Linked DNA regions of Homo sapiens. The protein of the gene in region 2 interacts with the protein of the main gene of each other region in a biochemical or structural test. Each region holds a gene or a part of one and is shown on either strand. Other genes may lie near its edges.

Region 1 (7,020 bases), on a different chromosome or scaffold from region 2:
TTTTTTTGTAGAGATGAGGTCTTACTGTTGCCCAGCCTGGTCTCAAGCCATCTGCCCACCTTGGCTTCCCAAAGTGCTGGAATTACAGGTTTGAGTCACCACGCTTGGCCTCAGATATATCATTTTATTCATAAATGCTCCAGTATGTTAACATAGCCACAATACCATTGTCACCTTTTAAAAAAACTGATAGGGCCAGACGCGGTAGCTCACATCTGTAATCCCAGCATTTTGGGAAGCCGAGGCAGGCAGATCAGGAGGTCAGGAGATGGAAACTATCCTGACCAACATGGTGAAACCCTGTCTCTACTAAAAATATAAAAATTAGCTGGGTGTGATGGTGCATGCCTGTAATCCCAGCTACTCAGGAGGCTGAGGCACGAGAATTGCTTGAACCCAGGAGGCAGAGGTTGCAGTGAGTCAAGTTCGTGCCACTGCACTCCAGCCTGGGTGACAGAGCGAGACTCCGTCTAAAAACAAAAACAAAACTGATAGTAATTTCCCAACGTTGTCAAGTATCCAGCCTTCCAACTTAGACTCTAATACTTAACTCCATTAGTCTCTTGGAGTTGCCATTTTTAGTGGATTATCTGCCACAAGGTTTGAGCTTCAACCTGGTGCTTACTGAGAAATTGGTTAATTCCAGCCAACCTTTTCCCTCCTCCATGGGGGAAGTGATGCAGGAGCAGAGGCTGGTTCAGTGGAAGGGTGGCCGTGCAGCCTGGTCTCCACTTCCACCCTTGCCCTGCTGCTGACTTTGTTGCCTCTGGCTTCACCTGCCCATCTCACAGGACAGCCGTGGTTCTCAAGTGGGGGCACTTGGGGTCCTGACAGATGCATTCAAGTATACAGCCAGTTTATTATTATTAACAGCATGTTATAATGCAAACAAAACTGGGCAGTTGCATCTGTCGACCTCCATAAAGCATTCCAAATCAAATACTAATTATGGATTTCCCCCACTTCCCTGCCTACCACAAAGCAAATACCCATAAAGACAGATGAGATAAAACCCTGGGCCAGGTGCAGTGGCTCACGCTTATAATCCCAGCACTTTTGGAGGCCAAGGCAGGCAGATCATCTGAGGTCAGGAGTTTGAGACCAGCATGACCAACATGGTGAAACCCTGTCTCTACTAAAAATACAAAATTAGCTGGGCATGGTGCCGCACGCCTGTAATCCCAGCACTTTGAGAGGCTGAGGCGGGCAGATCATCTGAGGTCAGGAGTTTGAGACCAGTCTGACCAACATGGTGAAACCACATCTCTACTAAAAATATTAAATTAGCTGGCTGTGGTGGTGCATGCCTGTAATCCCAGCTACTCAGGAGGCTGAGGCAGGAGAATTGCTTGAACCTGGGAGGCAGAGGTTGCAGTGAGACAAGATCACGCAATTGCACTCCACCCTGGGCAACAAGAGCGAAACTTCATTTAAAAAAAAAAAAAAACTGGAAGCCATGGCGGGGCCTTTAAGCAGGTGGGTGATGAGCCCCCTCTGGCTGTGGTCTACAGGCAGGCTGCTGGGGTAAGAGGGGAAGTTGGGATGCTGGGATCACAGTGGCTCAGAGGATGGGGCAAGGACATAAGGAGGTGTTGAGAGACAGAGCTGGCGGGGTGTAGTCGCTCACACCTGTAATCCTAGCACTTTGGGAGGCCGAGGCAGGAGGAACACTTGAGCCCAGGAGTTCGAGACCAGCCTGGGCAACATAGTAGGACCTTGTCTCTTATCTGTTTGAAAGAGAGAGAGACAGAGCCCTGTTGCCCTCCTGCCTTGTCCTGCCCTCCAGCCTACAGTCCTGTGCAGGCGGGGTGGGGTAGGGGGGTGCCCTCCTCCTTCCTGCTTTGCTTCTGGACCTGCATGCTGCTCTCTCTGGCTGGTCAACACCTGCTTGTCCCAGAAGCCTCAGCTGAAGTGTCAGTTCCTCTGGGAAGCCTTCCCTCCGCGGAGACTTAGAACTTGTCCCTCTCTCCCCTGGGACTCTTCACACAGCTTTCTAGTCCATTCCCAGGACCACTGGGTACCTGTCAGTTGGCCTGTAAGGAAGTGAAGGGTGGGGACACAGAGGCATGTGTCACGTTCACTTAGATCCTCACTGACCAAAAGGCAGGAGGGTTTCCTTAGGAAACAATGTAAACTTGTTTTCTATTGGGGTATAAAATCCACCTCAGGCCAGTGGTTATTCTCGATCAAGTGGGCTCCAGGAGGTCTGTCTGTCAGTATTAAGTGAAATGAGAGCCTCCCCTCCAGGCCTGGCCCCCAGTCCGGCCTCGCACCCCTTTCCCTGCCCACCCTCATGTTTTTGGTCTTTGGCTCATGACTGCACCGTCTCACCATGCTCTTGTCCCCTTCCTTGCAGGATGATGCTATATTTGGGATCCTTAACAAAGTGAAGCCTTCCTATAAATCCTGTGCCGACTGCATGTACCCTACAGCCAGCGGGGCTCCTGAGGCCTCCAGGGAGCGATGTGAGGACCCCAATGCTCCCGCCATCTGCACCCAGCCAGCCTTCCTACCCCACATCACGTCCTCCCCTGTGGCCCACTTGGCCAGCAGGTCCCGTGTTCCGGAGAAGCCAGCCTCTGGCCCAACCGAACCTCCCCCGTTCCTACCACCAGCAGGCTCCAGGAGGGCAGACACCAGTGGCCCTGGGGCTGGAGCTGCCCTAGAGCCACCAGCCAGCCTTTTGGAACCTTCCAGAGAGACCCCAAAAGTCCTGCCAAAGTCCCTCCTTTTGAAGAATTCTCACTGTGATAAGAACCCTCCCAGCACAGAAGTGGTAATAAAGGAAGAATCGTCACCCAAGAAAGATATGAAGCCAGCCAAGGACCTGAGGCTTCTGTTCAGTAATGAATCTGAGAAGCCGACAACCAACAGCTACCTGATGCAGCACCAGGAGTCCATCATTCAGCTGCAGAAGGCAGGCTTGGTCCGCAAGCACACCAAAGAGCTAGAGCGGCTGAAGAGCGTGCCTGCAGACCCAGCACCTCCCTCCAGGGATGGCCCTGCCAGCAGGCTGGAGGCCAGCATCCCCGAGGAGAGCCAGGATCCAGCCGCGCTCCACGAGCTGGGCCCCCTGGTTATGCCCAGCCAGGCCGGGAGTGATGAGAAGTCAGAGGCCGCCCCCGCTTCATTGGAAGGAGGCTCACTGAAGAGCCCCCCTCCTTTCTTCTACCGCCTGGACCACACCAGTAGTTTCTCAAAAGACTTTCTGAAGACCATCTGCTACACCCCCACCTCCTCTTCCATGAGCTCCAACCTGACCCGGAGCTCCAGCAGCGATAGCATCCACAGTGTCCGTGGGAAGCCCGGGCTGGTGAAGCAGCGGACACAGGAGATTGAGACCCGGCTCCGGCTGGCGGGCCTCACCGTCTCTTCCCCACTGAAGCGCTCACACTCTCTTGCCAAGCTGGGGAGTCTCACCTTCTCAACGGAAGACCTGTCCAGTGAGGCTGACCCGTCCACCGTCGCTGACTCCCAGGACACCACTTTGAGTGAATCTTCCTTCTTGCATGAGCCCCAGGGAACCCCGAGGGACCCAGCTGCAACCTCCAAACCATCAGGGAAACCCGCCCCAGAAAACTTAAAGAGCCCTTCGTGGATGAGCAAAAGCTGACCCGCCTTTTGCTGCGTCAGGCTGGGCGGATATTTTCATATGATCCCTCCCTCACTTTCACTGTGGATTTGGATCGACCCCTTACATCTTGATTTCCCTTAAACGAGTGAAGTCATCCTAACTTTTCCCCTACTCTTGCCATAGAGAGGAGGAGAAGAAACTAACCAACATGCAGCACAAGAAGGGGAGCTGTCAGTCGTGTGGCCTGGGAGAACCAGGAGCCGCCGGCCAGGAGACACAAAACTCCGCTCCCACCGTGTCTTCAAGAAGAACCATGTTTTAGGAAGAACGTGCACACATAGGCGCACACATCCAGACTGTTCCCTTCGCATCCTGCAGAAGAGTCCTGGTGGTGGCAGCCTCACCGCGGCACACGTTCTAGCTCATTCTTGGCCTCGCAGAAAACTCTCGGATGGCAACATTAAGTCCTACCTCTGTTCTCGCTGCGCTTTTTATTTTTAAAACACACGAATGACCAAGGCTTGTTCCAGGGAATAATGCTCTGTCTGAAAGCGTTTTTCCAAAAAAAGAATTTTTCGTTTTGTGTTTTGGTTGGGACCCCAGACGTGTCAAGACTTTTAACCCGACAGCCCCAAGCACTGCTGAGTAAAGTCATCAGATGAGTAGTCCCACGCTGTTGTTGAGCTGACTCTGTGCCCGAATGGTGGTGCAGGCGCCCTGTCCTGGTTGTGTTGTTACGTGTTTGACCAGCACAGGGGTCCGGTGGGGAAAATGTATGGGTTGTTCTCAGTTGTTGCTAATGCTGAAGTTTAAATCTCAAGGGGAAGGGCCCACCTGCATTGTTGAGTGTCTGCTGCTGAAACACATGATTGTGTTTAGGTTTGAAATTGCTCAAGTGTCTGGCTCAGGTGGTGGTTCTGAGACACATCGTCCTGCTGAGAGCCCAGATGCTTAGGTCCACTAGGGCCCATCTAGGGAAGGGAAAGGAGATTTCAGCGGCTTCCCCGAAAGGAACGGGACTGTCGGGATGCTTCCCGGATGTCTACAGTTGCCCCTTCCTGCAGTGAGATTACTGCTTCCTGTTTCCCTCCAGCTCTTCCCAGCAGCAGTGAGGGAGTATAAGAGGGATCTGTAGTCGCTGCCTGGCTCTGTGGGCGGCCCCTTTAAGACTCAGGTGAGCTCAGCCAGTCCCGCTGCGCCAGGCTTGAATCAAAGGTGTCAGCAAGCTAGATGTCAAAACATTTCGAGAGAGAGGCAGCTTGCAGAAAAGCAGAAAGGTTGAATTCAGGGGTCAGCAAACTATGGCATGTGGCCCCGTGAGCTAGGAATGGTTTTTCCTCTTTAAGACAGGGCCTGGCTCTGTCACCTAGGCTGGAGTACAGTAGTGCAATCATGACTCACTGCAGCATCAACCTCCCTGGCTCAAGCGATGGCTTTTACCTTTTTAAGGAGTTGTAAAAAAAAGAAATAATATGTGACAGAATTCATGTGGCCCACAAAGCCTGAGGTACTTACTGTCAGGCCCTTTGTAGAAAAAGTTGCTGACCCCTGGTTTGATTTGCCACACAGGGCTGCTCATGGCCCTGTAGGAAGAAACTGGGTAAATGTGAAGCCCTCTGCCTCTCTGACACCTAAGGCCAGACCCTTCCCTCCTCCCGACCACAAGCTTTGCCAGCCCCGCACTAGCCTCACCTGTGCAGGATGGAGTAGGTTGCGTACATGGGGGAAGGCAGGTGAACACAGTTGGCTGAAGCTCTTCCACAATTCCATCTTGCCCTCAGCTGGGTCCGCCAGATTAACTCAGTGAAACCAGAAAGCCTTCAAGGACCAGCTGAATTCTGAAAGTGAGTGAGTGAGCCATCATCTTAACATTGGCCAGAACTGTGTTCCCCAAAGCTATTCTAGAAAGCACCCCAGGAGGGATCTGCAGGAACAAGGCTAGTTCATATTTTACCTAGTGAGCACAGTTTTTGCAAAAATCCTCCCTCCAGGACTTTGTCTCCTTGGAGTGATTTTTAAAAATACATACATTACTTTATAGGGAGCTGTTTTCCCACTAGTGTCAATTAAAATCACCTTAAAAGGTGATTATCCACTTATTCCTAAACCCCTGTGGGTTGTTCCCCCTTTCCCTCAGCCAACAAAAGCATAGCCTCAAAAAATATCAAGTTCGGTATGTTTTGCCAAATCAAATTTCATGTGGTAGATCAATTTTTGTGTCAAAATAATCTTTTAAATTTAGTGATGACAGGCTTTTGTTGGTTTTTTAACCACGTCTATGTATGAGAATGATATATTTTTGAAAACTTTAATTTTGAAAGCCATAATTTTTCTTATCTAAAGAGTTGGGGGGTGGGGTGTGGAATCTGGAGAGTACAAGTTGGTCTTTGGCTTCTGGCAAACTTACCCATTCATTTTTGGAAGCACAGCTAGCATATCAACATCCAGACGAGAGCGCTGGTCCCGTCCACAGAGCAGAGTGAAGCATTCTGGACTTGATGCTTAATAGCCTGGCCTGGAGAAAAGGGTAAGGTTTATTTTTGGAAACCCAGATCAGTTGCATGTAAACAGATGGCACATGGCTATTTAAAATGCTGTATGATGGGGCCGGGCGCGGTGGCTCACGCCTGTAATCCTAGCACTTTGGGAGGCCGAGGCAGGCGGATCATCTGAGGTCAGGAGTTCTAGACCAGCCTGGCCAACATGGTGAAACCCCGTCTCTACTAAAAATACAAAAACTTAGCTGGGTGTGGTAGTGCGTGCCTGTAATCCTAGCTACTTAGGAGGCTGAGGCAGGAGAATCGCTTGAACCTGGGTGGCGGAGGTTGCAATGAGCCGAGATCGCGCCACTGCACTCCAGCCTGGGTGCAATGAAACTGGGAGTGAAACTCCGTCTCAAAAAAATAAAATGCTGTATGAACAAGATGAGCATTCTGTCAGGTGTCGGGACACCTGGGCAAAGACGAATTCATGCTGTCTGTGAAAAGGAAGTTTGCACTGTAACATATGCCATAGCTTGGCCCTTGCTTTGTATGCAACCTTAGCTGATGGGGAAAATTCCAAACATAAGTGGCACAGGAAAGAGGCAGGCAGAGGAGGCAGGGGTCTGTGCTGTGCAAGTCACTGGTTTTTTATGACTATCATTTTCATTGAATGCATTTGTTGAATTGGGACAAAAGGAACATTTTCTAAATCAGCTTGATACTCTTTATAAAAAACAGCTGAATCTTATCTTCTGCCTCACATTAATTCATGTGGCATGCCAAAAGTTAGACTGAACTTTTCTACATCTTCACCTTGCATTGATACAGGAAAGTCTTCTCTTTAAGTCTTGCTAAGTATAAGGGGGATAGTGGTCACGGGAAGAGGAGAACCGGGGCTGCTCTCGGATGGTAATTGACAATGCCGATTTCCATTTCTTTGTCTTACGGCTACTTCCGAGCCTT
Region 2 (7,876 bases):
AGTGAAGTCCATGTTGACGTAGTCACTAGAGCTGTCAGCTTCTCTCTGCTCATGTGTGGGCTTTTGTGGTTTTGGCTTGATTTTATATCCTTTTGTAATAAAAGAAAGTCGGTTAGGTCTCTTAGCTTTATTCTTTGGGGGCTCATGATCTGAAGGCTTTGAAGGTGATCCCCCATCTCCAGGCTTTGAGAATGATCCCTCACCTGAAGGCTTTGAAGCTGCATCTTTGGGGTCCCAGTTATAGGAGACTTCTTTGTCTAGGCCCCTCCCCAGGAACTTTCCAGGTAACATTGGCACATACTCACTGTTGTCATTCTGTCCCAAAGGTGAGCTCCGAAAAGGGTTTGGTAGAGAGAAGTAGGAGCTCCAACTTTTGGAGGAAGAGCCACCCTGAGGATTTCTGGGGTTTTTTGGAATTGCACCGGCTCCAGGAGCCATAAACATGTAGTCACTCTCACTGTCATTGTCCTTTGAGTCATCCTCTTTATTAGTATCAGGTGCTTTTGGAGGACTCGGAGCAGGTGGTGGGCTCACTCTGGGAAACATCATCATGTACCCTCTTGAATCTTCAAAAGGGGATCGAGAGTGGCGCTTTTTTGAAGCAGAGACATTTTGAGGAGCCATTGGCATATAATCACTGGAGCTTACAAGAGGGGTGGCCACCCCTGGCCTCATTGGCACGTATGGGTCATCCTCATCTTCATCAAAAGCTCTGGCTCTGTGGGGACCTCGAGCTGCACCTTCTGGGATCTCTGCATCTTTCACTTCTTTGGCTTCTTTGCATTCTTTCGTGGCTCCTCTGTCAACACAAAAATAAAGTCTGAATCTTCCCCCAGACTTCCCTTTTCCACCAGTTCCTCCAGCTGGTGGGGGTGGAGGAGGAGGTGGTGGAGGTGGTGGCATTTGCTGTTGCTTGCTTTGAGTTAATTTGCCAAAATAGGATCTTTTCTTCAGAGATTTTCCACGTTCACCATCACCATCGGATCCTTTCCCACTTCCTGAGCCTTTGCCCCCCCCAGAGTTCTTGCCACCACCTGAGCCATGGCCATCTCCAGGTCCCTGGCCACCACCTGAGCCATGCCCACCTCCAGGTCTCTGGCCACCACCTGAACCGTGCCCACCTGCGGTGCCCTGGCCATCTCTAGAGCACTGGTTTCCTCCTGAGCCCTGGCCATTTGAGCCCTGACCACCTCGGGATCCCTGTCCCTCGCCTGAACACTGGTTTCCTCCCGAGCTATGGCTACTGGAGCCTTGGCCATTTGAGCCCTGGCCACCTCCTGAGCCCCGGCCATTTCCTGAGCCCCAATTGTTCATAGGCATGTAGTCACCTCCGCTTCCTTCCTGATCTTCTTTGCCCTGGGGATTGCCTTCCTCCCCAAAGTTGCCAGAGCCAGAACCAGACACTTCAGAAGACAGGCGAGCTCCATTGTTCGGGGCTTCTGCAGGGTGCCGGGGACGTGCTGGGCTGGGTGCTAAGCGGCGAAAAAAGCTGGCCGGCACTGAAACCGCTCTCCTTGACCTGCGCCCTCTGGGCAGGTGCAGTCTTCCTCGCCTGGAGTGGGCCACAGGCTCGCTGGGTGTTACGAAGCGCCTGGTGAAAAGCATCTCGTCTTCCCCGTCGCCGATGGCCCTGAGGTGGCAAAACTGCTCAAAGCGGGACCTTCTGAGCCAGCCTCCCGGCTCGAGCGGCACCAAGCCCAGGTGCCTCCTAGCGGACAGCAGGGTTAACAGGTGGGCGCCGATGCTGATGCTGTAGCTGCGGCAGCGGGCTCTGTATTCGTCTGCACACAAGGCTCTCATCTTCTCCAAAAACAGCTCATGCATGTTTTGGGCAACCACACAGTCATCGACCTGCATCCAGAGCTCTCCCGGACCGATGACAGTGGACCTGCCTACTTCCAAGAAGAAATACTGCTCCGAGTGTCCACAGCGACGGATGCTCAGGAGCTGGACGACCACGCTGGCCACTTCGGTGTTCAGCCTCACAAACACGACCTCCTCGTCGGTTAGACACAGCCGGAACACGCCGCTCAGCTCTTTTCTGTGCCCCAGCCCCCTGGGTTTGACTATTACCTGCCACACATCTTTATAGAAGGGTGGCTCCGCCGCCGCTGCCGCCGCCAGCGCGGCCGGCTCTCCGTCCGGCTGCGCGCCGAGCGTGCCGCAGCGGCGGCGCTTGCTCTCGAGGATGAGGCGGCTGAGCAGCAAGTACCAGCTTTCCTGCTCCGACTCGTTCTCGGCCACCATCGCGAAGTATTCGTCTTGGGTGAAAAGAGCAATGAGGTGTCGGTACCTTGCATCTGCTCGCTGGCTCACGGAAAAGCACTGGTATAGGGTGATCACGCGCCGCGGTGGAATGAGCGGGGGGATCGCGGCGCCAGAGGCGGCCGCCGCTGCTGCAGCCGCCGCGGCGCGGACACTGTGCCGGAACTTCCTGGCATTTTCGTAGTATTCCAGCCGAGCTGGGGCGTCAGCAGTCTCGAGTTTGAGCACGAAGTAGCGCCTGTGCCCATGCTTCTGTTTCCGCAGGTAGCCGCGTTTGCAGACTTCCTCCCCGACGGGCAGGTCCTCCTCTTCGGACTCGGAGTCTGACCGGGAGCCAGTGGCCGTGGAGAGCCACATGGCTCCCGGACAAGACGACCCGGTCCCAATGAGTGCGGTCGGGGTTCCCGAGGAAAGAAGCGGGGTGGTCACCACTGCTGCTAGAGCTGCCGCTGCCGCCGCTGCTGCACCTCTTAGTCTTCTTGTCGCTTGGTCGCGAGTGAAGGAGCAACTCGCCATGGTGATGCACGATGGTTTTAAGGTGAGCGAGGAGGAGGGGGAATTCAGGAAAGGGAGGGTTGGGGGAAGAGGCTGTCTACCCTCGTCTGCCCGCCCCAGCCCCCTCCTGCCTTGGCCCGCGCCCCCGCCCACTCCACTCTGAGCGCACGACAGCGGGCAAAACAACACGTGACCACAGCCTCACGCGGCGGCCGCTGCGGATCCTGCTACCGGCGCAATGGAGGGGCGCGAGCGGCCACCAGTAGAGGTGAGCAAGGGAGGAGACGGCGGGCTCGGGAGGCGGAGCCACCTCCGGCTGTGCCAAATCCTCCCGGTCAATCTCCAGGCCTGTGGGCCAAGGGAGGACCGAGAGGAGGAGGCGGGCTCTCTGGCCAAGCTGATTCTAACAGGGAGTCCAGGAAGGCATGAGGGGGCGGGAGAAGGCCTGGAGGGGCGGAGGAGAAAGCGGCCGGCTATCAGGGTCGGGAGAGGGCGCCACAGTCGGGGCCCCATTGGTGGGAGGTGGTGGGAGGGGGCGTAGCGCAAGCAGTGCCTGCCTGCGGCGCCAGGGTGCAGAGCGGGCACAGTCGCGGGACAGTTTGTTTGTTTATTTGGGAAGCGGGAGCCAGGTGAAACTGTTGCAAGGCTCTGATTGGTTGGGATAGGAGCCAATGGGAGGGTCCGGCAAGAAGGCAGCCCCGAAATCATTAGTTTGGCGGGAGGGAGGGGTGAGAGGGGAGAGGGGAGAGGGGGCGTGGCTGGGGTCCCAAAGTGGCTTCGCTGTCGGCTTGTGGCGCTCTCAGGCGGTAAACAACCTTACGCAAATAGCTGTTAATGGTGGTGGTAAACTCGTGCAAATCCCAGAGCCGTGGTGACCCGGGATGGAGTCGGGTGCCCTGGTACTCCCTGTCAATCACATAAATTCTCTGTTCCTGTCACAGTCTGGTTCATTCTTTCCAGCCGCACAAGGCGGCGGATCGAGCTTCTTGGGAGAAAGTGTCGGCACCCCCTGAAAACGGGTTGACGACCAGGGCGCTCAGAACTGCTTCCCACCGCTCTGCAGGCACTCCCGAGCCCGCTGCACCCCTGACAGAAGCCCGCGACTCTGAGGCACACGAATAACAGCGATGCATTCAAAATGAACATGATCTTTATTAATCAGAATGCACTTCTAGCCCACGAAACACAGGTTCCCTAAATACAGTGTTTCTGCCTATTTGATTAACGATGACTATGAAAGCACAAATTTGGGGGCCTGCAATGTATACAGCCATATTGGAAAAAATTGGACTCGATTCTTACTGAAATAACCAGTGTTGGGCTGTGAAGGTATTTTTCTGTGGGAAATGCTTTGGAAGGTGCCTTTAAAAGAATCTCAAAATATTGCTTTCCTTTCCTTGAGCGAGACCGAAAAACTTTAGAAAAAGAAAAGCTCATACCTAGAACAAAGGACCACGCTGAATGCATATTCTAGAGCACATTTCACATCCCTCGCGTCAACAAGAAGAAGAAGAGGAGCTTTGATGCATTTCAGTCTACAAGTTGACATCACAAAAGTAAGAACTACTGCCTCCCTCATTTCTGGAAAAACTGCCGGAGTGTAAGTGCAACCTCCTCAAGTCTCTCTCTCTCTCTCCCTCTCCTTCTCCCTTTCCCTCTCCCTCTCCCTCTCTCCCCCACCACCCCAGTTATTACTTGACTAGGATTTTAGACTCTTAATGGTGGAGATGGGTCGTGAATTATCAAAGGAGTGACCAGGTTTGCAAAGAGGAATGGAGGGAGAGGAGGAGAGAAATACAGCATTTCTCTCTGAAAGAATGGAATGTCAGTTCACCCTTGCTCTAGGGTTGATATGGCAAAGGGTACTATTTATAAAATCCAACAGTAAACTAGGCAATATGTATATCATAAAAATAAACCATATTTCTGCCCTCTTAAGAATTTGCTCTGTTAGAAACAGAACACACGTATTTGAATAAATGGCTCCTTTTTGATGCTATAATTTAAGAGAAAAAGAAATTGGTTTGGGTTGTCCCCCAGATATTACAAATATTCAATAACATTCCCTCTGCTGCCAATGGTTTATAAGTGCAATATATTCACAGGTGCTGGAAGCAGCCGTGGTTTCGGAAGGGAGCTAGAGGCAGAACGAGTGTGGATGCTGAGAGATCCCTGACTGTGACTGCTACATATTTCAGCTGCGTAGTCACATATATACAAGATTCCCTGCACTTACAACCAAAATGATAACAAATGCTCTCATTTGGGATTTTGTTTGATAGTCATTAGGATATTTTATAAGTCTTTCCAAGCACAAGGTTTTTTTCTTTTTTTTTTTAAAGAGAAATGTGACAAATAAGGCAACATATTTGAAAGTGCTTTGAGTAATAACATGACATTGAAAATATCAAAATGAATATTAAATGAAATGGGAAAATACTGGAGATTTTTAAATCCTCATGTCCTTTTTCCTGTACATATAGTTTTTACATAGAGCAGTAGGCTTACAATTTATATAATTTTGCATCCTGTTCTTTTCACTGAACATTATACAATATTTCCCCATATTATTATGCATCAGCATAAATATCATTTAAAATACAACATATTATCCAACACAATCGATGAATATTAATGTAATTAATCATCTGCTTTGGGGCATTTAGGTTGTTTTCATTTTTTTCAGTATTATAAATAACATGTCAATGAATATCTTCTACCTACAGCCTTTTAAAATTCCCATTGGGTAAAAACTGAGCACTGGAATTAGTAGGCTAAAAGATATGAATATTTAATACATTATTTTTCAAAAATATTATATTAGTTTACCCTGTCACCAGACTGATTGTCAGCATTGGACATTCTTATTTTTAAAAAATTAGAGATAAGATGGGTGAAACGGTATTCCACTATTCTTTTTTTTTTTTTTTTTGAGATGGAGTCTCATCCTGTCACCGAGGCTGGAGTGCAGTGACGTGATCTCAGCTCCCTGCAACCTCGGTCTCCCGGGTTCAAGCAATTCTCCTGCCTCAGCCTCCCAAGTAGCTGGGATTACAAGTGCCCGCCACCATGCCCAGCTATTTTTTGTATTTTTAGTAGAGAAGGGTTTTCACCATGTTGGCCAGGCTAGTCTCGAACTCCTGACCTTGTGATCCACCTGCCTCAGCCTCCCAAAGTGCTGGGATTACAGGCCTGAGCTACTGCACCTGGCCTCCACTATTCTTTCAATGTGCTTTTTTTTTTTAACTAGTGAGATTAAACATTTATATATATTCACTGACATTATATTATTTCCTATGTCCTTTGTGTTGTCTATTGTATTCTTAGTATTTTCTTCTTATGTGTAACTTGTTTATGTAATAAATACATTAAAACTTTGTGGTATTTGTTGCAAGTTTTTTTTCCCCAGTCTGTTGACTTTAAAAATCACATTTAACTTGATTTTCTTCTATTTTGAAAGATATGTAAATTGGGCATGATGTGATTTGTAGCACAGTTTGAAAGGGAGCTGTTGATACAAGTGTCACCATGGTCACTTTTAAACTTCTTTTAAAAGATCTCATATATTTCAGCTTATATGCTCTTTTAAAAGGAGAAATAGGTTTCTTCTTTTGTCAACAAATTATGAGAGCATCTAAATTAGTTAAATTTTATTTATCACTCTGAAATAATACTTTATGAGACATTTTCTATTTTAAGGGGAAATATCTAGCATTAATCAATGTGTTAAAAAAAGAAGTGTGAAAATAATTTCTAAACTATTACAGTGAAAGATGAACAGTGCTGATCACTTTGTACCCAGGGTATATTATTTGGCTGCAGCGAAGTGGAATTAGAGCTATAGTGAGATGCTTCACAGAAGAATTTTACTTTGTATCTTTCCTAATCTGGCAAGCATGAGTACTTGTAAACTGGGAGAATGTCTGACTAGAACATTATTTTCTTCCTACAGGTCAACCAAACCTTCTCAGTCCTAAAGTTGTCTCAACACTGAAGCTCTGTAGAGCAGACCATCATTACTGAATTGTACCAGATGCTAGAGCTTGTCTGACATACATTTAAATTTTCATTTTCCTGGACAACTTAATGATATAGAATAGTCATTTAGTTTAGGTCAGATTCTCATAGGCAAAGTAAAACAGATATCTAGATGGTTTAGGCAAAATGTAGAGAATTTTTATTTGGCTTGAACTCACTCAGTGGTGGCTTTAATGCTCTACCCTCTCTTGGTTATAGATTCCTGTCTCTTATTTTTTTTCGTTTTTGTTTTTATTTTAGGACAGTTTATCCCAGAAGGCTAAAGTTGCCTTGCATATTCAGTTATTACAACTGTAAAGTTTGGAATCTGCACAAAGGGTCTGAAATACAGATTTTTAAAACAACAGATAATAAATAATAAGACTTAAAAGATAGTTCTTGTTTTAGTTTGCCAATTCAACTCAAGGGATAAAAAACACAAGCATTGTAACTGGCATTTTATGGCTATAAACTAATGTAAATGGATAAATAGCCACAATACCTTTAAAACCAATTCCAACTAATGAAGAAATATGCCTTTAATGATGTGTGCTTTTAAAAGGAATTTCCTGTGAGTCCTGTTTTAAGAAAGCAATTGTTTGAATTGACTTGTCAGTGATAACAAAAATTCATCTGCTTCTTTTCTTACATACATGATCATGAATATTCTAAACTCAACTTGTACTAAAATCGAAATGGGTAATTCAAGTGTGGATTTATTTAGTTTAAAAATTAAACTGTTGTATTAAATATGGACGACATTATTCAAGAGAATAAAACCTAAGAGGAAAAGTAACCAGTATCAAAAAACTATTATTCTTGTCCCACGTATAAATTATCTTCTAAGTATTAATTCTAAAAGCTTCATGAGCTAACGTCCAATTATGCTGATAAAAATGTGATGCCACCCTTGATATTAAAAAATGATGTTAGTGATGACGATTGCTTCTCTGTGTTGGGACATAAATCATGTACAATGAAAGATGCTTTCTACACTATGCAGGAATGAGGGCTGCCCTGTGATTTGTGGCTGCAGCCACTGTTTGTAGATGATGGCTTTGCTTCTCAGCTTCTTTACTTCTGTGCTACTCAAAACCTC
Region 3 (7,878 bases), on a different chromosome or scaffold from region 2:
TTCTCCTGCCTCAGCCTCCCGAGTAGCTGGGATTACAGGCACCCACCACTACGCCCAGCTAATTTTTTGTATTTTTAGCAGAGACGGGGTTTCACCATGTTGGCCAAGATGGTCTTGAACTCCTGACCTCGTGATTCGCCCGGCTTGGCTTCCCAAAGTGCTGGGATTACTGGCGTGAGCTACCACACCCGCCCATTAACTTGCTTTTTGAAACAGCTGTATTATTAGTACTCATGACCTCAACATAAGCATATGCATGGCTTAATGAATGCCTGGTATTAATTATATAATTCACGCTCACAAACGAGAGGAAGAATTTATTCAGTCATATTACAAATCTCACTACAGTGGGTTCTAAGATTCTCAACTCCTTAAATTGGAATTATATTGTGCTCAAAGTTGACTGCAACTACCAGCATCTGCCAGGAACCGCAGGTTTCACCAATCAGATTCTTGGTGTCCTGGTCTTTGTTATACAGTATTTGATTTATAATCACTTTCTCCCCACTTTTAAAGTCCATTTAGTTCAGTAGTTAATCTTGTAGTCATTATACTGTCATGGCTTTTTTTTTTCTATCTCTATCCCACTATGCAAACAGTTGGTGTCCTCAATTATAATAGCTTTTAATGTTTAAAGTTTAGAGTAATACCCGGTCGACAAATCCATAAAGTCATAAACATCTAACCCTGGAAAAACTGTATCAACACCCAGTCCTTTTAAAATAGATGTTTAAGAAACGAACTGGCCAGTTTGTTACTTTAAAAATTCTAGGCAACTTTTCAACTCAAATTTGGGATAATTTAAATAAAAGAAACCTCTGATAAAATCAGTGTTACAGGGCAAACACAACAATAAAAGCAAATCTCTGCTAAAACGCTTAAGGCAAATTAAAGCAACTAATCAATTAAAATAACGTATTTCACTTGGAAAAGAGAATGCTTGGTCACTTTGCGTTAATTTTAAAATAAGAAATACAAAATCATTAGACTTAACACAAAAAGCATGTCTGAAATTGAACTAGGATACAACTAAGTGTCATTCAAAAATTTTCCTTAATAACATTCTAGCCTAATTCCACCTTGGAAATTAACCAGACTGATCTCTGGCCTACTAATGGTCCTCGGGGAGAAAATATGCAATAAATTTTCCAAAAAATATCCTCGCTGAAGCCAATGCACCTTCTCTTATCTTTGTAATTAACGTACTATAAAAGTGGTGGTGTCTGGCCTGCTTCAAACTTGGCACCACAGTATCAATATACAGTTCTGATATTTTGGTTAAAGGTTTTTTTGTTTCTAAACGCTAAAGCATTTTCATTTTTTTGACTGTTCCAAAGGCTGCAGTCCTGGAGTTCTTAACCTGGAGTTCAGAGATCTGGAGGGAGTACAAGCACCCGGGATGGTGTGCAAACTTGTGTGTACGTGCCTTTGGCGGGGAGGGGTGGGGGTGGGGGTGGGGGTGGGGTGGTGAGTGCTCGGCTATCTTCAGATTCTCAAAGAAGTCTATGGCTTAAAAACGGTTTTTGGCCGGGTGTGGTGGCTCACGCCTGTAATCCCAGCATTTTGGGAGACCGAGGCAGGCGGATCACGAGGGCAAGAGATCGAGACCATCCAGGCCAACATGGTGAAACACCGTCTCTACTAAAAATACAAAAATTAGCTGGGTGTGGTGGCGTGAGCCAGTAGTCCCAGCTACTCGGGAGGCTAAGGCAGGAGAATCGCTTGAACCCGGGAGGCGGAGGTTGCAGTGAGCCGAGATCGCACCACTGCACTCCAGCCTGGCGACACAGCGAGACTCCGTCTCAAAAAAAAAAAAAAAAAAGAGGTTTTTAGAAAAACCAACAAATCCCTGCATCAGTATTACACCCAGAGAAAGTCACGAAAGGCAAAAAGCGTGCATTTTAACTATGCAACCACCGTTAAACATTCAAAACGCATCCTCTTCACATTGAGAAACAGCCTCGTGAGAGGGAAAAAAAAAAAACGCATCCTCTTATCCAGTGACCCAGATCCTGACACTAGCTTTCTGTTAGGAAGGCCTTCTGGAAAATAATTTGGTTCAGAATGCGGGGAATATGGGTTCAAGCGCGCCCCACCCCCCTATACAAGCACTCTTCGACAGACCCGGTTCTCGACCTTCCTCCGCGGTCGGGGAGGGCTCTCGCGTACCTGGGCGCAGGCTCGATGAGGGTGGTGGTGTCCAGGTAGTGGATCTTGTAAAACTCCAGCAGGGCCGGCAAATGGTCAAATTCCTGGTCCCCGATCTTAAAACGGCGGTTGGGCAGCGAGTTGATGATGTAGTGGGAGACCCGCGAGTTCTCGGACACCGACAGCACATAGTCCCCAGGGCAGGTGGAAGAATCGCGGACGAGGAACATACCGTGGCGCTGGCCCTGGAGCCGGGTCTGCGCCTCCTGGCGAGACACCGGCCCCATATACCAGGCGGAGCGGTCCGAGGAGTCGAACCTGGCGGAGGACATGGTGTTGGACCGGGGACTCTGCGGCGGTAGGGGCGGCGGCTGTCCTCGCCTGCTCTGCACGCCTTAGCCCGGCAGACGGCTTTGGGGCCGAGGAAGGGCCTCTCGCACACCTCGAGGAGCGCTCAGAGGGCTGGGCCAGCACTTTCCTCTCGGCTCCGGGCCCGCAGCATCCTCCGACGCCGCCCGCCTGCTCCGGGGCCGCCACACGGAGAGAGCCGCCCGGGAATGCACGGCAGAGCCGGGGGGTCGGGGCAGGCAAACCCGAGCCGCAGCGGAGGCCACCCCGGGGTTCTCGGGCTGCTCGGCGTCCCAGGGGTGCCTCCAGTGACTCCCGGCCTGGAACGCGCCGGCGCCGCAGCTCGACGGGTCTTCACCGACCCCCGCCGTCACACGAGGCACCGAACTCGAAGGAGCGTCGCGCCTCCGGGGTGCTTTTGCCCAGCTTGTTCCCAATAGCCACAGCAACAAAATGGCGGACGCGGGAGAAGCGGCAGCCACCTCCCCCTCCGCTCAGCGCGCTCCGTCTGCGCACGCGCTGGGCCCCGGCTCCCGGCGGCCGCCGGGGCCCTCCCGTTACGTCACACAGCGCAGCCAATCAGGAGCACCGTCGCGACGATCAGGGTGGGCGCTGGTCGCGCCCGCTCCCGCGTTCCAGGAGGAGGCTGAAGAGGCGCCGGCGGTAGGCACTCTCTTCCTGGGCCGCTGCGCGCCGCTGGGGGCGCTGCGGCTGCCGGGTCTCCCAGCGCTGGCAGGAAAACAGCTGGAGCCGAGAGGGAACCGCGTTTCGAAAACCTGCTTCTGGGAACAAAGCGTAACGTGCAGGCTGAATCGCGGGCCAGGGAGGCGTGGCACTGAGGCGACCTGGCCAGCCTAGGGGCCTGAGGGAGGTCAAGGACTGACAGGTCCCGATGGGCCGAGGTGGCCCAGTAAAAGGATGAGCCCAGGGGCAGATGTGACCACCAGATAGGTGACTGACTGAATGACTCAGTCCCCAGGTGGCCTGATAGGCTAAGGAAGCCCTAGTGGCTACGTGACCCGCTAAATGGAGTGAGAGGAGAGAGAAGGTGAGGGTTAGATTGACTCAATTAAGTGGTCAAGGAAGTCCACAAGTGGGTAACCTGGCTATCATGGGCTCTGAACTGCTGAAAGTAAAATACAAATGCCTCTCGGGCGTGGCCCCGAGGCTTCCCCTGCCCCGGATTATGCCTGCTTCTGCCTATTTATTAATCCCTATTTGTTTTTGTTTGTTTTCTTTCTTTCTTTCTTTCTTTCTTTCTTTCTTTCTTTCTTTCTTTCTTTTCTTTTTTCTTTTCTTTTCTTTCTCTCTCTCTCTCTCTTCCTTTCCTTTCCCTTTCCCTTTCCTTTCCCTTTCCCTTTCCTTTCCTTCTTTCGACGGAGTCTCGCTCTGTCACCAGGTTGGAGTGCAGGGGCGCGATCTCGGCTCACTGCAACCTCCGCCTCCCGGGTTCAAGCGATTCTCCTGCCTCAGCCTCCCGAGTAGCTGGGATTACAGCTGTCCGCCGCCATGCCCTGCTAATTTTTGTATTTTTAGTAGAAACGGGGTTTCACCATGTTGGCCAGGCTGGTCTCAAACTCCTGACCTCAGGTGATCTGCCTGCCTCAGCTTCCCAAAGTGCTAGGATTACAGGCGTGAGCCACCGTGCCCAGCCTGTTTGTTTTATTTTGTTTGTTTTTGAGACAGGTTCTCCTTCTGTCACCCAGGCTGGAGTGCAGTGGAACTATCATGGCTCACTGCAGCCTTGATTTCCCCATCTCAAGGGATCCTCCCACCTCAGCCTTCCGAGTAGTTGGGACTACAGGCTCGCGCTGCCATGCCCAGCTAATTTTTTTGATTTTTTTTTTTTTTTTTTTTTTTTTGAGACGGAGTCTCGCTCTGTCGCCCAGGCTGGAGTGCAGTGGCGGGATCTCGGCTCACTGCAAGCTCCGCCTCCCGGGTTCACGCCATTCTCCTGCCTCAGCCTCCCAAGTAGCTGGGACTACAGGCGCCCGCCACTACGCCCGGCTAATTTTTTGTATTTTTAGTAGAGACGGGGTTTCACCGTTTTAGCCGGGATGGTCTCGATCTCCTGACCTCGTGATCCGCCCGCCTCGGCCTCCCAAAGTGCTGGGATTACAGGCGTGAGCCACCGCGCCCGGCCTTTGATTTTTAATAGAGACGAAATCTCACCATGTTGCCCAGGCTCGTCTCAGACTTTTGAGCTCAAACAATCCTCCCCCTCAGCCAAGATGTGAGCCACCCCGCCCAGCTATGTATGAAACAAGTTAATATATGCAAAGTGCTTAGAATAGTACCTGGCACATAGTAAGCATCATATGAGTCTTCCATTATTATTATTCAGTCATTCCCTGGGCCTCTACCTCTATACCCTAAAACCCTGAGCATACACCCTCAGTGGGTGGGTGAGGGTGGAGAGAAAAATCTCCACTTTGTTTTCTAACTACTTTTCACTGTCAGATTTACCACTTCATAATCACCTGCTCCTTGCCCAGCCCTTTTTTTTTTTTTTTATTCTGATACGGACTCTAGCTCTGTAGCCCAGGCTGGAGGAGTGCAGTGGCGTGATCTCAGCTCACTGCAACCTCTGCCTCCCAGGTCCAGGTTCAAGCAATTCTCCTGCCTCAGCCTGCCAAGTAGGTGGGATTGATTACAGGCATGCACCACCATGCCCAGCTAATTTTTGTATTTTTAGTAGAGACAGGGTTTCACCATGTTCGCCAGGCTGGTCTTGAACTCCTGACCTCATGATCCTCCTGCCTCAGCCTCCCAAAGTGCTGGGATTACAGGCGTGAGCCACCGCCTGTAATCCTAGTGGTGATTTTTTAATTTTTAAATTTTTTGTAGAGATGAGGTCTCACTGTATTGCCCAAGCTGATCTGGAACTGCTGGGCTCAGGTAATCCTCCCAGCTTGGCCTCCCAAAGTGTTGGGATTACAGACGTGAGCCACCCACCCAGCTGCTCAACCTTCTTAATCTGGCTTCTACCCATGCTTTGACTGAATTAGGCTTTTTGGGTTTTGTTTTGTTTTTAAAGACATGTCTCTCTGTTGCTGACTCTCGTCTCAAATTCCTAGGCTCAAGTAGTCCTCCTGCCTCAGCCTCCAAAGTAGCTAGGATTACAGATGTGAGCCACAGCAACCCGCTCTCTGCCCTCTAAATGCAGAGCGTCCTTCACCTCTCCATAGTTTTTCCTTTAGTAGGCTAATAATCAGCATGAAGCATTTAGGGGTCACATCTCTGGTGACTCCAAACACATATTCTAAAAGCAGAACCAAAACTGACCATACTCTCTGATTACTATGTATACACTGTGGGCACAGCCTAAATTAATTTTTATCACATTCTATTGTAATTGTTCATAAATATTTTTCTCATCCCAATCTGAGCATCTTGAGGGCAGCCTGCTATATATTATTTTTTCTATTCCCAGTACCTAGCACATAATACATACTTTTTTTTTTTTTTGAGATGGGGTCTCATTCTGCTGCCCAGGCTGGAGTGTAGTGGTGCAATCTCGGCTCACTGCAACCTCTGCCTTCTGGATTCAAGTGATTCTCCTGCTTCAGCCTCCTGAGTAGTTGGGATTACAGGCACGCGCCACCATGCCTGACTAATTTTTGTATTTTTAGTAGAGATAGGGTTTCACCATGTTAGCCAGGCTGGTCTCGAACTCCTGACCTCATAATCTGCCCGCCTTGGCCTCCCAAAGTGCTCGGATTACAGGTGTGAGCCACCACGCCCAGCCGATACATACTTAATGTATGGTTTTTGAATGTAGATGGATAAAGATGGGAGGAAGCCAGAGAAAAATGATAATTGAACATTAGCTGCTGGCTCACTCCCTTTTCAGCAGCCCTCTTTGCCTCAGCCCTCTTTGCCTCATCTTTTCAGGGTGTACTATCTGTCTATATAAACTATCTGCTCTTGGCCAGGTGCAGTGGCTCACACCTGTAATCCCAGCATTTTGGGAAGGTGAAGCAGGTGGATCCTTTGAGGCCAGGAGTTAGAGACCAGCCTGGACAACATTGCAAAACCCCATCTCTATTTTAAAAAAAGTAAAAACATTCTTTTTTTCGAGACAGAGTCTCACTCTGTTGCTCAGGCTAGAGTGCAGTGGCGTGATCTCGGCTCACTGCAACCTCCGCCTCCCTGGTTCAAGTGATTCTTCCTGCCTCAGCCTCCTGAGTAGCTGGGACTACAGGCGCATGCCACAACACCTGGCTAATTTTTGTATTTTTTAGTAGAGACCAGGTTTCAACATATTGGCCAGGCTGGTCTTGAACTCCTGACCTCGCAACCCGCCCACCTTGGCCTCCCAAAGTGCTGGGATTACAGGAGTGAGCCACGGCACCCAGTCAATGTAAAAACATTGTAAAAATAAACTCTCTGCTCTCTATTTTCCTTAAATAAACTCTCTTTTTAGAAAAAAGTAAAGTCCGGGCACAGTGGTTCACACCTGTAATCCCAGCACTTTGCAAGGCTGAGGTGGGCAGATCACTTGAGGTGAGGAGTTCAAGACCAGTCTGGCCAACATAGTGAAACCCTGTCTCTACTAAAAATACCAAAATTAGCTGAGCATGGTGGCGCTCACCTGTAGTCCCAGCTACTTAGGAGGCTGAGACAGGAGAATAGCTTGAACCTGGGAGGCGGAGGTTGCAGTGAGCCAAGATTGTGCCACTACCCTCCAGCCTGGGAGACAGAGTGAGACACCATCTCAAAAAAAAAAAAAAAAAAAGAACCAAATATCTCTCATTTTGCTTCTAAATACTCCAGAGGGGAATAAGGTGTGGGTTAGATAAAAGTGAAACAAGAATGGCCATGTGAGATTGATAATTATTGAAACCAGGTGACATGATGCGAGGGTAGGGTTAATTATATTCTATAATACTTTTATGTATGTTTGGAATTTGTCATAATAAAATTTTTGTAAAAGATACTTTCCTTTATTTTTCCTTAGCACAGTTGAGACAAGCATAAAATAAACTTTCCAGGCTGGGCATGTTGGCTCATGCCTGTAATCCCAGCACTTTGGGAGGCCAAGGTGGGTAGATCACTTGAGCCCAGGTGTTCAAGTCCCAGCTACTCAGGAGGCTGAGGTTGGGGGATCATCTGAGCCCAGGAGGTCGAGGCTGCAGTAAGCCTTGATTGTGCCACTGCACCTCAGCCTAGGCAACAGAGCAAGACCCTGTCAAAAACATTCCAAAAAAAGTTACTAAATGCTGAGATAGCAAAACAGCAATGAGTAGAGAAACAGAAAGAAACCATTAAAAAAGCTGTAATAGGCCGGGCGCAGTGGCTCATGCCTGTAATCCCAGCACTTTTGGAGGCCGAGGTGGGTGGATCACGATGTAAGGAGATCAAGACTATCCTGGCTAACAT
Region 4 (7,020 bases), on a different chromosome or scaffold from region 2:
GGAGGCCAAGGCGGGCAGATCACGAGGTCAGGAGATCGAGACCACAGTGAAACCGCGTCTCTACTAAAAATACAAAAAATTAACCGGCCGTGGTGGCGGGCGCCTTTAGTCCCAGCTACTCAGGAGGCTGAGGCAGGAGAATGGCATGAACCCAGGAGGCGGAGGTTGCAGTGAGCCGAGATTGTGCCACTGCACTCCAGCCTGGGCGACAGAGCGAGACTCCGTTTCCAAAAAAAAAAAAAAGATCATTGTTTCCATCCCTGCTAGCACAACATCCAGCCTGTAGCCTGTGGATCAATGAATGAATGAATGACTCGGAAATCAAGATGACTCCTTGACATGTCATTCATTCATTTATTTATGCATGACAAGGTGTCCCACTGTCACCCAGGCTGGAGTGCAGTAGCACGATCTTGGCTCACTGCATCCTCCACCTCCCGGGTTGAAGCAATTGTCTTTCCTCAGCCTCCTGAGTAGCTGGGGCTACAGGTGCGTGCCACCATGCCCAGCTAATTTTTATATTTTTTCATAGGGGGTTTCACCATGTTCCTCAGGCTGGTCTTGAACTCCTGAGCTCAAAGCAGTCTGCCCGCCTCAGCCTCCCAAAGTGCTGGGACTACAGGCCTGAGCCACTGTGCCTGGCCAAGTCTTAGTGTTTTTGAGGCACGGTCTCACTGTGTCTCCCAGGCTGCAGTGGAGAAGCAGAATCACAGCTCACTTTAGCCTCCACCTCCCAGGCTCAAGCGATCCTCTCACCTCAGTCTCCTAAGTAGCTAGGACCACAGGTGCGCACCGCCATGACTGGCTAATTTTGTTTTTATTTTTGTAAAGATAGGGTCTCCCTGTGTTGCCCAGGCTGGTCTTGAACTCCCGGCCTCAAGCAGTCTGCCTGCGTCAGCCTCCCAAAGTGTCGGGGTTACAGGCAGGAGCCACCGCAGCCGCCCATGACTCTCATTATTGAGAAATACATTTGTAAGGCTCTAGGTGCCTGTAGGTGCCGTGGAGAGCAATTCCTCTGATGGAGCTGGGGAAATTGGGTAAATTGAAACCCCCGGAAAGGCTTTGCCGTTCTAGAGGCTGTGAAGGACACGCGTGATCCATGGGAGGAGGTAACATGTCAGGATGAGCGGAAGTTTGGAAGAAGTTGGTCCCAGGCCTGAAAGATCACTGTGAGGGTTCAGGACTTCAGTGGAGGAGGGACTGTAGAGGTTTTAGAAGCAGCAAGAGAACTAGAATGAGAAGGACTTGGAGATGTGACTGCATTGTCGCTGTCTCGCGAGAAAACTTTAACACGTGAGGAGTTGCCTCTGAAGGGTGAGCAGGGGAGTTGCTTCAGTTGCGCTCTAGTCCCAGTGAAGATTCTGTGAACCTGGGGGTAATGAGGACAAAGAACTTGGAACAGCCCGGAACCTCGGTTGATGAAGCCGCGGCCGGGTTGAGAGGACCGACTGCAGTTCTGAAAGACGTTCTGCTGTGGGTAATCAATGCTATCAGACAGCATCACGCCCCACAGAGAAATCTTTCATGAAAGGAAGAGTCCATCGCTGTGGCCAACTTTTTTGTGGTCATAGTTTAAGAAGTTGCCCCAGCCTCCAGCAGCCACCGCCCCAACGAGTCAGCCGCCGTCCACATTGAGGCAAGACCCTTCTCCGGGGAGATTAGGGCCACTCCCGGTTCCCATGATCATTACCATTGCTTAGCAGTAAAGTATTTTTATTTCTTTATTATTTATTTAAGATGGGGTCTTGCTGTATCCCCCAGGCTGGAGTGCAGTGGTGCGATCATAGCTCACTGCAGCCTCCGCCTCCTGGGCTCAAACGATCCTCCCGCCTCAGTCTCCCGAGTAGCTGGGACCACAGGCTTGCACACCACGCCCCGCTTAATTAAAGTGTGTCCTTTGATTAGACACAACGCTACTGCACACTTCCTAGACCACGGTATACTGTGAACGTAACTTGTGTGTGCACTGGGAAACCAGAACATTCGAGCGGCTGTTGCCGTGCGGAACCCAAGGCCTGTGATCCCCACAGGGTGTTTCTGGCACCGGAACGCAGGGGCCACATCCAGGGGGGCAGTGCTTGTGACGCCGGTGCCTTCGTTTCTGATGTGGCTTACTCAGCTGGGAGTTCCTGTCCTAACATTTTCGGCGATGGCTGTGCACCCACGGCCCCTCTTCACCCGCGGCCCCTACGTCCTGCCGGTTGGCAGGAAACCTCTTCCCCTGCACATCTGGGGCACAGCAGCAAACTGTGGTCCCCCTTCTTCAGTGAGGGTGGGGCTTCTGTCTGTCTGGAGCCCTAGAATGGGGCCAGGGGTGGCTGGGGCCTGGGTCAGGGAGGACCCGGCAGGATCTGTGCAGACAGGCAGGTGGCTGCGGTGGCTCCCGGTGCAGGGTTCTTGGCCTCCTGGGCGGGTACCTGGCTTGAGGGCGACGAGGTGACAGCCGCGTCCCTGGGGTTGCACCACCCGAGCGTCCAGTTAACACCACAGCTGCCACCCTTCAGTTCTGCAGGTGGGGCTCCTCCCTCCTCCCCAGGCTGCCCCCACCACCCTTCAGTTCTGCAGGTGGGGCTCCTCCTTCCTCCCTCCTCCCCAGGCTGCCCCCGACCACCCTTCAGTTCTGCAGGTGGGGCTCCTCCTTCCTCCCTCCTCCCCAGGCTGCCCCCGACCACCCTTCAGTTCTGCAGGTGGGGCTCCTCCCTCCTCCCTTCTCCCCAGGCTGCCCCCGACCACCCTTCAGTTCTGCAGGTGGGGCTCCTCCCTCCTCCCTTCTCCCCAGGCTGCCCCCGACCACCCTTCAGTTCTGCAGGTGGGGCTCCTCCCTCCTCCCCAGGCTGCCCCCGACCACCCTTCAGTTCTGCAGGTGGGGGCTCCTCCCTCCTCCCCAGGCTGCCCCCACCACCCTTCAGTTCTGCAGGTGGGGCTCCTCCCTCCTCCCTCCTCCCCAGGCTGCCCCCGACCACCCTTCAGTTCTGCAGGTGGGGCTCCTCCCCAGGCTGTCCCTGACCACCCTTCAGTTCTGCAGGTGGGGCTCCTCCCTCCTCCCTCCTCCCCAGGCTGCCCCAGACCACCCTTCAGTTCTGCAGGTGGGGCTCCTCCCTCCTCCCCAGGCTGCCCCCGACCACCCTTCAGTTCTGCAGGTGGGGGCTCCTCCCTCCTCCCCAGGCTGCCCCTGACCACCCTTCAGTTCTGCAGGTGGGGCTCCTCCCTCCTCCCTCCTCCCCAGGCTGTCCCGAGGCTCCTTGCTGGGGACCGTCCTGCCTCCCGTCGGGGCCTGCGCTGAGACTGGGCTCCATGCCAGCCGGGGCTGGCTGGCCCCCTCGCTCCAGAGAGCGACCTGCACAGAGTCCCCTCAGCCATGAGCCCCTGTCCAGACACGGCGTTTCTCTGTGGGTGGCAACAGGCTCTGGGGCCCTCAGCTCTGGGCTCGGGAGCATTTAAGGTGGTGCAGACTCAGCGAGGGGCTGTGGGCTGGGGTCCCACCATCCCGGGAGCAGGGACTGCGTGTTCCTTCTCAGGACCAGAGGCTTCTGTCTTTTCCCCTGGGGTAGAAGTTTGCTGCCTGCCCCGTGCCCAGCCTTGCTTAGGTGGCTGTTGGCTCCGCTGGTCCCTCAAGCCCCGCCATTCCCTCCTCAGCTCCGCTCTGCACCGAAGGGGATGGGTCCGACCCAGCCTGGCATCATCACAGCCTCGAGTGGCGTCCAGCCTGCCCCGCTCCACCAGTGGCTGCTGGAGAAGAACCCGAGCCTGGGTCAGGCCCTGGGGGCTCCTGCATCAGTGCCCGGCTCTCCGGGGCCTCCTGCCCTCCGGCCCACTCTCCCCGCTCTCAGCATCAACCAGTCGCCATGGGCAGGGGCAGCTCGGTGGCTCCTGTGTCCCTGCCTCGGGCCTGCCTGCTGTCATCTGCCTCCCTCCCTCTTTCCCAGAGCGGCCCTGGGCCTGGATACGGGGACTGTTGTGTGGCCCCTCTGTGTCTGGGGGTGCGACTGCTCCCCTGGCTTCAGGATCCTCAGGGCTTCTACCCGGGATTGGCAGTCATGCTCTCCTGGCAGTACACTCTCCCACCTGTGCCACCCACCCACCCACCCACCCATCCCGCTTTACAGAAAGCCCCCTGAGCCCTACCCTGTTCGTCCCCAGGCAGCCACGCCGAGATCTCTGGCCTCTGATGTCATGTGATGTGTGCTTCCCAGCTGGGTTCCGGGCAGGGACGGTGCTCATCATGCCCCGGCCTTCAGAGCTCCTTCCAGCCCAGCAGTCTCCTGGCTGTGTCCTCTGTGGCCTCCGCCCCGTGTCCTCAGTGGCCCCGCGGGGGCCTTGCCGGTGCTCACCTGTGCCTCTGTTTCTCTGCAGCTGTGAGCCGTGAGCTTTGAGGCGGTGGGATGTGTCAGCAGAATGTCTCCTGCCCCCGAGAGCGACCCCGAGGCCACTGAGAAGAGCAGCGCGGCCTGGCCGGCCCGAACGCCTGCGTCTCAGTAGCTGGGAGCCACGGGCCCACGCCCGCCCACCGGCCGCAGTGATGTTCTAGCCACAGAGGAGCCAAGACCTCAGGTTTCCAGAGACTTGGGATTTGCACGGCAGCAGAGTCACCGTGGAGAGGCCAGGGTATCACAAACTTATGGATTTTGACAAGAAAGGAGGGAAAGGGGAGACGGAGGAGGGCCGGAGAATGTCCAAGGCCGGCGGGGGCCGGAGCAGCCACGGCATCCGGAGCTCGGGGACCAGCTCGGGGGTCCTGATGGTGGGCCCCAACTTCCGCGTCGGCAAGAAGATCGGCTGCGGCAACTTCGGGGAGCTCCGCCTAGGTGAGGCCCTGCTCGGTGGTAGGTGGGGTCGGGAGGCTGCTGGCAGGGCCGCCCCGAGTCACCGGAGCCTCTGGTGGGGCCGCCCGGGGTCACTGGAGCCTCTGGCGGGGCCGCCCCATGTCACTGGCAGGTGCGTTGAATCATCAGTCCGTCGTGGTGCGAGTGCCACTTCCCTTCGAGGAGGTTCTGTGGGGAGAGTGGGTTTCTGGCCCTGTCACCTTTTCGGGAAACAGTTCTGTTGGGAGGCAGGTGGCCCAGAGCAGGCCAGGCCACGCCGCAAGGAGCCCGATGTTAAGTTGTGAATGACTTTCATGGCCCATGTGCACGCTGGGCGAAGCCCCGGCTTTAACGGCAGGTGCCTGCCCGGCACTCAGCTCGTGGGAGGTCTTGGCCAGCCCGGAGCTGGCGTCAGGTGGCTGGAGTGACTGTTCTGTGGTGATGATACTGCTGTGTGCCACTCCCAGCTTCACCATGTAAAAGGCCGCACCTGGCCCACCTGGCTCCGTCCCTTCTGCTCACACCAACCTCTCCCGGGTCGGGGTCTGATTGCCCGGGCAGGCGTGAGGAGCAGGGCCGAGGACTGAGCCTCTCATTGGCCAGGGGTGCCTTCCCTGGGGTGGGGGTGCCTGAAGATGACCATCAGGCCTGGGGGAGCTCTGAGCACCTTTGGGGCCGTTCCCAGTCTGTGATTAGCTGGGCCAGGGAGCTGAATCATCCCCGGAAATGTGGTTAAATTTATTGCTGGTGCTGCCGGAGCTCCTGCGGGAGGGCATTTGGCGTCTGTTGCTGGGGTTGTCCGGGGAACCCAGGTGCACCCCCAGTCAGTGTCTGTCGTGGTGGGAATCAGGGTCCCTGGGAAAGAGCGCAGGATGGGCAGGTCCGAGAGGCCACGGCAGTGGATCGGCCTCACGTGGGCACCCATGGCAGGCGGTGCCCATGGCACCCATGGCAGGCACTCAGCCCGATGAGGTTGTCAGATGAGGGAAACAGGCCCACGCAGTGGTCATGATGTGGCTGCATCTTCAAGAGCGGCCGCCCAGGGGCGCAGGAGCATGGGCTGTGGCGGCCTGGACCCCAGGCATGTTTTGTGGCCCTGCTTCCCACCTCCTGCCTCACTTTACCCACCTGTTAAATGAGGATGAATGGTAGTTGCCACTCGTGGGCAGAAGGGTTCAGCAGGCAGTTATGCGGCAGAAGTGTGTGTCCTATGAGTCAAGCAGCTTCTCCCAGGCGAGGGCAGCTGTTGGGGTCACTGTTGGCTGTTTCTGTGTTCCCATTGGTTGCACCCAGGGCCCCAGGAGGCCGGGGTTTGAGACCCCACCCGAACCAGATCCCACCCCAGCCCTTGGGGAGGCTGCTGGGATTCCACCTCTGCGCAGAGGCTGGGCTTGGGCCACGAAGCCTCACTGCCGGTCCGACGGCCTGTGGCTCAGGAGGCCCGGGCTCCGTTTCTCAGCCAAGAGACTGAGCTTTTCCCAACAGGAGCTGTGGCCTCCCAACCCCGTGTGTGTGTGCACGCTCAGACACACGTGCAGACACATGCAGACATGTACACACGTGCCCACAAATGCACATGTGCACACTAAAGCACACGCACACAGGCGCACACAGCCACAACCACGCATACACAGGCACACAGGCTCATCTGCACACACATGCCTGGCACAGCCCCGTGACCTGCAGCCTGCGGGGTATGGCTTTTGGGAACCCAGATGGCTATGTGGGTCCTGTCCTTGGGCGGCGGTTGCAGGCTGCTGAATAGTGCAGGTCCCTGTAGGCAGATGAGAGTGACGTGGGTGATGCCAGCTTTTTTTTTTTTTTTTTTTTTGAGACGGAGTCTCGCTCGGTCACCCAGGCTGGAGTGCAGTGGCGCAATCTCGGCTCACTGCAAGCTCCGCGTCCCGGGTTCACGCCATTCTCCTGCCTCAGCCTCCCGAGTAGCTGGGACTACAGGCGCCCGCCACCACACCCGGCTAATATTTTGTATTTTTAGTAGAGATGGGGTTTCACTGTGTTAGCCAGGATGGTCTTGATCTCCTGACCTTGTGATCCACCCACCTCGGCCTCCCAAAGTGCTGGGATTACAGGCGTGAGCCACTGCGCCCGGCCTGGTGACGCCAGCTTTTACTGAGTTGCGGTTTGCGCTCTCTTCAGCCTGGCATTTTGGGCGCTGTGTGCTTCGCGGGCAGCCGCACATCGTGGTTTCTCAGGGGTG

Evidence for each region.
Region 1: the proteins of IRS4 (region 2) and SSH1 form a complex in vitro, tested with the Homo sapiens proteins (one study listed by BioGRID).
Region 3: the proteins of IRS4 (region 2) and CRKL form a complex in vitro, tested with the Homo sapiens proteins (one study listed by BioGRID).
Region 4: the proteins of IRS4 (region 2) and CSNK1G2 form a complex in vitro, tested with the Homo sapiens proteins (one study listed by BioGRID).

Annotation. Positions count from the first base shown.
Region 1 is NC_000012.12:108,784,581-108,791,600, reverse strand, and holds part of SSH1 (protein phosphatase Slingshot homolog 1), read left to right. Parts: intron 1-2,356; coding exon 2,357-3,613; 3' UTR 3,614-7,020. UniProt on the Homo sapiens protein: Protein phosphatase which regulates actin filament dynamics. Dephosphorylates and activates the actin binding/depolymerizing factor cofilin, which subsequently binds to actin filaments and stimulates their disassembly.
Region 2 is NC_000023.11:108,733,564-108,741,439, forward strand, and holds the start of IRS4 (insulin receptor substrate 4), read right to left. Parts: upstream 3,001-7,876; 5' UTR 2,782-3,000; coding exon 1-2,781. UniProt on the Homo sapiens protein: Acts as an interface between multiple growth factor receptors possessing tyrosine kinase activity, such as insulin receptor, IGF1R and FGFR1, and a complex network of intracellular signaling molecules containing SH2 domains.
Region 3 is NC_000022.11:20,912,537-20,920,414, reverse strand, and holds the start of CRKL (crk-like protein), read right to left. Parts: upstream 3,009-7,878; 5' UTR 2,481-3,008; coding exon 2,170-2,480; intron 1-2,169. UniProt on the Homo sapiens protein: May mediate the transduction of intracellular signals.
Region 4 is NC_000019.10:1,965,155-1,972,174, forward strand, and holds part of CSNK1G2 (casein kinase I), read left to right. Parts: intron 1-3,636; exon of another isoform or gene 3,637-3,751; intron 3,752-4,353; 5' UTR 4,354-4,618; coding exon 4,619-4,805; intron 4,806-7,020. UniProt on the Homo sapiens protein: Serine/threonine-protein kinase. Casein kinases are operationally defined by their preferential utilization of acidic proteins such as caseins as substrates. It can phosphorylate a large number of proteins. Participates in Wnt signaling.